Regions from separate parts of the Homo sapiens genome. Here region 2 is linked to region 1. The links come from fine-mapping of genetic effects on gene expression. A gene starts in region 1. The other region holds a variant in brackets. All regions are shown on one strand. Distances are between the middles of the regions. Region 1 holds the start of PLB1 (phospholipase B1). Region 2 has its middle 31 kb from the start of PLB1.

The links. PIP is the estimated chance that this variant, and not a neighbour inherited with it, causes the effect.
Region 2: its variant is fine-mapped to the expression of PLB1 in whole blood (TOPMed, PIP above 0.99).

What each region holds. Positions count from the first base shown.
Region 1 is chr2:28,493,837-28,498,227 of GRCh38, reverse strand. PLB1 (phospholipase B1) reads right to left here and starts at 2,168. Exons shown (of 58, transcript NM_153021.5): 1 at 2,059-2,168. The coding sequence starts at 2,113.
Region 2 is chr2:28,462,606-28,466,996 of GRCh38, reverse strand. No RefSeq gene overlaps it. Among named protein-coding and RNA genes, the nearest start is that of PLB1, 31 kb to the left of the region's middle. The variant C/T (reference allele first, on the strand shown) is at 2,342.

The DNA of each region.
Region 1 (4,391 bases):
ATAACAACATTGGGTTCCTCTCATATACTATTCATAAAAGTCAATCCCAGATGTAGGGTGATTGACTTAAACGAGAAAAGTAAATTTATAAAGCTTTTAGAAGGAAATATAAGATATCTTCATGACCTCGAGGTAGGAGAGGAGTTATTTAAGATACAAAGAGCACAAACCATAAAGGAAGATTTAAAATACATATACTTAAGAATAAAGGCCGGGCACGGTGGCTCACACCTGTAATCCCAGCTCTCTGGGAGGCCGAGGCAGGCAGATCACTTAAGATTAGGAGTTTGAGACCAGCCTGGCCAACATGGTGAAACCCTGTCTCTACTAAAAATACAAAAATTAGCCAGGCACGGCGGCAGGCACCTGTAATCCCAGCTACTCAGGAGGCTGAGGCAGGGGAATTGCTTGAACCTGGAGGGCAGAGGTTGCGGTAAGCTGAGACCAAGCCACTGCACTCCAGCCTGGGTGACACAGCCAGACTCTGTCTCAAAAAAAAAAAAAATAGAGAATATACAAATGGACAACGGTGGGACCACATATGATAACAGAACTCTGAGCCACAGTCTGCAATCGGCCAGGCCAGAGAACCAAACTGCAGCCTCTGCAGCAATCAGCCCAGAATGGTCAGGTTTGGTTAATGACTGCCATCTTCTCTATTTTTTGCTCTGCTTCCAACTCAGGACCCCTCAGAGAAAGCCAGATACACTCCCAACTGGATAACTTCAGATGCCGTGCCTCTAGTCAGCTGGTCCCTGATACCAACAACCTCCAACCAGAGCAGATCTGAAGATTTCCCTTTTTTCCACTGTGAAACTTTCCCACTCCCCTGCCTGCCTTTGAATCTTGGCCAAACATAAGTGATGTCTCGCTACAGCGAGCTCTGAATAAGTAGCCTCTGTTTGTCCTCATTTGGGTAGTCTACATTTATTTACACAAAATTAAGAATTTTGCTCATCAAAAGTCCCCATAGGAGGACAAGCTTCAGAGTGGAACAAGATATTTGTCATATATGTAACCTCCAAAGAGCTAGTACACAGCATATATGGAGAACTCCTAAAAAATCAATAGGAAAAAGACTTCAACAGGCACTTCACAAAAGAGAAACTCAAACAATCTCTATGAAAACACTCCTTGGCCTCATCAGTAATCAAAGAAATACAATCATCCTGTGCAGAAGGCATAGCAAGCATCGTCATTCTCCCCCACGGCTCAGAGCGGTAACTGACTTGCCCCAGAGAAGCCTCAAGCATGGGCTCAGACCCTAGGCAGGCCCAGGACTCTGTCCCATGCCTCCTCCACTCTCTCTGGGGAGTCAAGGGCAAGTGCCTTCTCACTCCAGACCCCGTCCTCTCATCTGGAGAAGATGAAAGATCTTTAAGGCCCTTTTCAGTTTAAAAGATTCTGCCTTCCTAAGCAAAGGGAGAGCCAATGATGGGAAGAAGAGGGGCAGAGAGGGATTGTGGCAGAGGCACAATCTACCCACAGTCATTAATGTTGGGGGGAATGGAAAGCCCTGGCTGGTTGCCCACTCAGTTCAATGAAAGCTCAGCACTCTGTTTAGCAGCACTAAAGAATGTAGGCAATCTTTTAGAATTTATCATCTGGAAATCTGTCTTCCTTTGTCCTTCAAAAACAAAACAAAGCTCATAAATGGTAATAGTAATGATCAAAATGTGCATAGTAGTAGTATTTCCATTTTAAGGATGAAAAAAATCAAGGTCCAGGGAGGTGGAAGAACTTGCCCAAAGCCACAAAGCACAAACAAATAGAATCCAGGGGTTTTTTTTGTACCATGGTACTGCTACCGGACTGCACTTCTCTCCTGTCCCAAGATCTGCCTCGCTCCCGGCAGCCTTTGGGACATGTAACCCTGTGTAGGCAGCCTCTGCATCCCATTCCGCAGGAGGCAAACCAGACTTCTTATTCTTGAACTGTACGCTTTGTGCTTTATCTCTTCAAAAGCACACACTCCTCTCACACACCCATTGCCTAAGCAACATGGGACACCAGCGGGGCTAAACCACTGGTTGTCCTCTGAGCAAAAGGCACGCTTACCTTGCCCCAGAAGCAGCAGCAGCTCCAGGAGGAAAATGCCTGGCCGCAGCCCCATGCCAGAATGCTCCAGGTGACTCGGGCCTCTGGAAGAGCTGCTCCAGCAGATGGATGGGCTATCACACCTCCTCCTGCTTTTATGTTCCTCTGTGTTCTGATAGAGCACCTGTCATAAATTTTACTGTGTTCACCTTTGAAAGGGGGTAGTGGCGGGCTGTAAATGATAAATATTAACACTTAGGCGGAAGAGTTCTTAAGGCAGATGAGTCAATGATGGGTAGCATGTTCTAGTCATAGACACTGACAGACCAGGGCCGCATAGCTGCCTCCATACAGCCTTCCATGATGGTGGGTGCCCAGAAATTGCCGGTGTTCGGGTCTGCTGGGAAGAACGTGGGCCTGGGAATCCCAGGTGCTGGTCGGAATTCCAAATCAACCACAGCTGTGGGAACTTGGGTGTATCCCTTAACGTGGCCTCAGCTTTCTCAGTTGTAAGCCAGGAGATCAAAAGTACCTTGTAACAAATGTAAACCATAAACCTACCTCCAAATGTGAAACGTGTTCCCACCGTGTCTCAGAAGCTCTGCTAGGTTCCCTGGTTTGCATGACACAGAGAGGTTTGTTCTGTTCCCCCCATCTCCAAACCCATGGGTGGCCAGTTGTGTTGGGTGGATGTGCACACCATAGATTTGTTGTCTGCATGTTGAATTCAGAGATACAAGCCAGAGAGGGGGAACCAAGTTTGACAAAATCAGCCGTTTCCTTTGGGTAAACTAAGTCAGGAATGCAGGCTGGGTCTAAACTGGGCAGACAAAGCTGGCATTTAAAGCCTGAGTGACAAATACCCTTGAGAGTAGAATTTAAATTTTTTACACAAATATCAAGAAACAATTGCCTTGGTTGATAGGAACAAATATATTTAAATTATCCTTGCTTTCTGGCCATGCTTGTGGGTGTGAGGCTGGGATCCTGACTTCTGAGGTCTAGCTAAGACTCTAGGGCTGGTTCCCATGACCCAACCTCAGATTCTGATCTCCTGGCTGACCCACTTTTCTCATATTTAAAAATCACAGCCAGACACAGTGGCTCACACCTGTGATCCCAGCACTTTGGAAGGCTAAAGAAGGAGGATTATTTGAACCCAGGAGTTTGAAAACCAGCCTGGGCAACTCCATCTCTACAAAAAATAAAAATAAATTAGCCAGGCATGGTGGCATGCACCTGTAGTCCCAGGTACTTGGGAGGCTGAGGCAAGAGGATTGCTTGAGCCCAAGAGTTCAAGGTTGCAGTGAGCTATGATTGCACCACTGCACTCCAGCCTGGACAAGAGCAAGATTCCATCTCAATTAAAAAAAAATTGTTTTTAATTACTGTTATAACCTCTATTGTCTTGAGTAGAAAGTGAAGACGAAGTGAGTGGCCCTTTGTTCCTGAATCTCTGGTTTTAGGATGTTGTCTCCCTTTCTCAACTGCTCAGAAAATATGTGACTTGTGGGTCACCACTGATTTAGCCAATGCCAAAGGCTTAGCCTAAGCCTCAGGACTGTAGGGGGGTATTGGGACATGCCAGAGGTGTGTGGACACTGACACACTTAGTCCAGCTGGCCATCAGCTAGTTCCAGAGCCTAGAAGAGGGCAGCACACACAGACACACAGAAAAGGAAGAAGAAAATACACCCAAGGCCAAGGTCTGTGGGGGACAAGTGAGCACAGATGCCCCTGGATATGTAGACACTTGTCAACTTCACCAAACTGCCCCCAAGTTCAATGAGAAGCCAGAGCTGCTGTCCCACTAAGGATGTCAGGAGTTTACCCAGCTCCATGCCACCAGCAGCTTTGAGGAGCATCACTGAACTTGCCTGGGCTGAATAGGCCAAGGTCCCCACTCATGTGCAGGCCAGCTGGAGGTGGGGTGGAAAGGACATGGGGCATGCGCAGAAGTAAGTTGGTTCCACGCTCCAGGTACTCGCTCCATCTCTTAACTGCTTCTCTCCAGGACTACCACAGCCCAACTGGGTTACCATCCTTCCTCTAACTCCTTTCACATTTAGAAAAATTGAGAAATGCCTTAAAAACATTTGAATGTTGGGAAGGCATTTTGGTATGGGATAGACTGGATGTCCTTTTAGGTAGAATAAATCTCTGAGTTCCATCCATGCATCAAGGAATCCTCACCAACTGTGAGGCTGTAGGGGAAGCAACATTTCTTAGACACTCTTTTTAAAAATTTTTTTGAAAAACAGAGATGAGGTCTCACTATACTGCCCAGGCTGGTCTTGAACTCTTGGGCTCAATCAATCCTCCCACCTTGGCCTCCCAAAGTGCCGCGTTTACAG
Region 2 (4,391 bases), 31 kb after region 1:
GCCCATTCTTGCTCCAAAAGTCTATAATTCTGTGGATCCCATGATACTTTTATAATTTTGTGATAAGCAACTACATTTTTATCCTGTCATTGCATGTTTTATATCTGAAAGTGCACAAAAAGATTTTTATGTTCACTACCTTGCAAACAGATAAGCAAACAGAGTCATTGAGAAGGAAAGTTGGAAGTTACTCAGGAAGCTAGAAGCTAAGGAAAGACTGAAGCAAGTAGGTAAGTACCCTGGCCGGGGTAGGGGATCGGATTCCATCCAAAGCCTTCTTTGACACAGTATTCCAGGTTCATTTGCTTTCTCCACTTACCAAAAACAAACAAACAAACAAAAACCCACTAGTGCAAGACTCAGGCCAGCTCCCTCTGGCTCTTCAGAAAATGTGGTTGTTTTCTTGAATTTGGCCCTGGCTACAGCAATGACTTGAGAACGTCTGGAGAGACCTGGGTAAAAGCTGGGTGGGTAAGTTACCAGGCTCCGCCCAGACTCAGTCTCCCAGCACTACGGGCGCAGAACTGGGCTCTGAAGGCAGATGTGAGTGTCATGGTGTCTTCAGTGAGCCTGGGCTGTCAGCTCATGAAAAATTTAAAAAAGATTTTGAATTAGTTGGCATTTTTTAATGGGATGATTTTATATTTTAAAATGCAGCTTTCTGGCATATTTTGAAAATATGAGGCTGGGTGCCGTGGGTCACGCCTGCCACCCCAGCACTTTGGCAGGCAGAGACAGGAGGATTGCTGGAGTCTAGGAGTTCCAGATCAGCCTGGGCAACAAAGCAAGGCCCTGTATCTGGCCAAAAGGAAAGAAAGAAAGAGAGAGACAGAGAGAGAGAGAGAGGAAGGGAGGGAGGGAGGGAGAGAGGGAGGGAGGGAAGGAAGGAAGGAAGGAAGGAAGGAAGGAAGGAAGGAAGGAAGGAAGGAAGGAAGGAAGGAAGGAAAAGAAAGAAAGAGAGAGAAAGAAAGAAGAAAGAAAGGAAAGAAACTACCTTGCTAAGTAGTGAGCCCTCTGTCACTGGAGAAATGCAAGCAGAGACTGGAGATCATTGAACTACACCAAAGGGATAACTGTATCAAACACTTCTTAAGTCTCTTTCACCTGTGATAGTCTATGATTCAAATAGTTTAACTTCAAGGGCTCCCAGGGGGACTGAGTGGGGAAAGATGGAATGTGAGGTGCAGTGGATGAGATAAGGAGAGAACAAAGGAATGAAGTGGTGAGCTCAGCACTGTAGCTCTCAGTGTGCAGAAAAGTCAGTCAGGTTTGAGGTCAGGTCAAGGGAAACCAACAGTACATTTACATAAATGTGCTCTAAAGTTCACATTTGCTAATCTATGGGAACAGATAGATACACCGAGATAATCAACTCAGTTTGAGGCTTCTTGGAATCTTTATGCTGCTCATCACCCTGAAAGAACGAGACAGACGAGAGCAAAGTCATCTATGTGGTTACAGTGGTATTTTCCCAACTACAGGTTAGAAGTCATGAAATCAGTTTCGTTGGTTGTAACTAGCATTAAAAAAAATGGAAAATACCAGAGCGCATCACAAGTGATTAAATGACCAAATGTTTCATTAAAGTTTTGTTTCAATACTATGTAAGTCTATATATCATATATGTATGTGCACCAAATTACGATGTAAAATTGGTGAAAACGAGTTTGAAAGCCACTAGGTCAGAGACAGAGTGGGGGCAACCCTGCTCTGTGAGCCAAATCCTGTCTCAGATTAATTTTATCTGGCCAGGGGTGGAGCAAGATGGCAACCAAGTGCAATCCTGATGGGAGCAAGGTGACAACCAGGCCTGGGACCAAGCTCTGATGGGCTTCATTCCTGAGTCGAAGAGGCCACAGCAGAGTGCACAGGCAGATTCCAGACTTTCCTCGGGAAGCTGCTATCCGTTTTCTCAAATGAGGTCTGTGTGTCCCACCATTCGCAGACATACCTCCCCACCGTGACCACCACCATCCTGACACTTGCATATTGGCCACACTCCTCACCCTAGCCCAGGAGGAAGCCAGGAACTTCTGCATGCATCATGTCTTTGGAGTCCACCCCATGGCCAGTCCTGTTCCCTCCATCCCTCCATCTCAGCCCCTTAGTGCCTCTTCCATAAGATCGCCTGGGGTATGGCAATGAATTAGTGGCATAGTCTGTATCCCCTGTCTCCATATTCCTGAATTGCTTAACTTATTGAATAGGTTTCTTTAATATCATCTGCAGACTGAAGGAACTGACAAAAAATGATGGTGTGGATTTGACAGTTGCTATGAATGAGCTGCCTACAATTCTATCTAAGGCTGGCTCTCCATTGGAGCACAGGATTCTGTACTCT[C/T]ACTTTCTTTTTTTTCCTTTAAATTAGAGATGGGGTCTCTCTGTGTTGCCCAGGCTGGTCTTGAACTCCTGAGCTCAAATGATCCTCCCACCTTGGCCTCCCAAAGTGCTGGGATCACAGGTGTGAGCCTCCACACCCGGCCCAACTCTCACTTTCCTGACACATCAATGATCCCCTCTCAATTATGCCCTCTGGCATACCAACATGATATAATTTTTCCCAATGTCGAAAATCAAAACATAACTTCTCTTGACCTCATAGCCCCCTCCAGCTTCAATCCTATTTTTCTATTCTCTTGGCAGTTAAAATTTCTTGAAAGCTTTCTCCAAACTTATGGATTCAAGTCTTCGTTTCAGTGAGTTCTGAGTCTTCCACTGGAACAAAACTGTTGTCAGTTCACCAAGGACCTTCATGTTGCTAAACCCAGTAGTGAACTTTTCATCTTTATCTTACTTAAGCCATTAACAGCATTTGATACCTTTGGTCACTCTGTCTTTTTTTGAAATACTTTCTTCATTTTGACTTCAAGACAACGCTCTTGTGGTTTTCCTCTTTCGACATTGCCCACTCTTTCTCATCTGCATTCTTACTTCTTCCTCATCATGCTGGTGTGTAAACACTGGAGTGCACTGATCTGGGTTCTGGACCTGTTTCTCTTATGCATCTACACTCACGGCCTAGGTGATTTTACCCACACACATGACTCTTCATACCTTCTATACCCTGTCAAATGTTAAATGATTTATCTCCAGAGCTCCGGGTGCATACATCCAACTGGCTAGTGCACATCTTCACTTGCATATCTTGTGACCATCTGAAATGTAATGTGTCCAAACAAAACTTCTCGCAGTTCTGTTTCCAGGGTAGCATAGTGAGCTCCTGCTGTATAAACCCCTACAGGTAACTACCATAAACTCTGAACAAAATAGGAAAAACAACGACCTGAAGGCCCTGGAGTGTGAACAAAAGCAGGCAGTTTCTGGAGAGGAGTTACTACTTGGAAAAGGAAGATGCATATGCGATGAGTTTCACAGTTTTTATGGCTTTTATCCAAAAGGCAGGCCATGGTAGAGTCACACAGGGCAGATAAAATGATGATAGAAAGTCTGCAGTCCTTCTGGCCTAAAGAATCAAAGGATAGAGTTCGAGGCAACCACAGCCATTGGAAAGTGAGAGGGAGAATCCATAAACAGAGAGACGCAGAGAAGAAGAACCACAAATTCTGTGTATAAACTGTCCAAATCTCTGGCCAATTCCTAGTCCATGCATGCATGAGGCAGGCTCAAGCAGCCCAGATAAGAATGTACAAACTAAACTGAGATTTAAACTGGTGCTCAAGAGATGGTTTACAGCTTGATCCAACCAAGTTAATAGCTTGCTTAAAACAAAACAAAATTTAAAAATCAGCATTTGGCCAGACGTAGTGGCTCAATCCTTTAATCCCAGTGCTTTGGGAGGCTGGAGCCAGAGGAGCACTTGAAGCCAGGAGTGTGAGACCAGACTAGGCAACATAGCGAGACACCTCTCTACAAAAAATAAAATTTAAATAAAAATTTAAAAAAGTAGCCAGGCATGGTGGCTACTTGGGAGGCTTGAGGTGGGAAGATCGCTTGAACCCAGAAGTTTGAGACTGCAGTGAGCTATGATTGTGCCACCACACTCCAGCCTGAGTGACAAACTAAGAATCTATATTAAAAAAAAAAAAAAATCAGCAGTTAGGGGAAATAACAGAATCCAGAGTCTCCACAACTTAACAATCATAATGTTCAGAATATCCAAATTATTTCATATATGAAGAACAGGGAAAATGTGATCCATTTTTAAGAGACAAGACAATCAACAGAGACTGACCCTGAGATGACCTAGATATTGGAATTAACAAAATCATAATTCTCAAGTAGCTATTATAACTATGCTTTGCAAGCTGAGGATGATACATGTACAACAAATAAAAAGATAGGAAACCTCAGCAGAGAAACTTGATTTAGAGGAAAACTAAATAGAAATTCTAGAACTGGAAAAGATAATGTTTGAAATAAAAGATTCACCA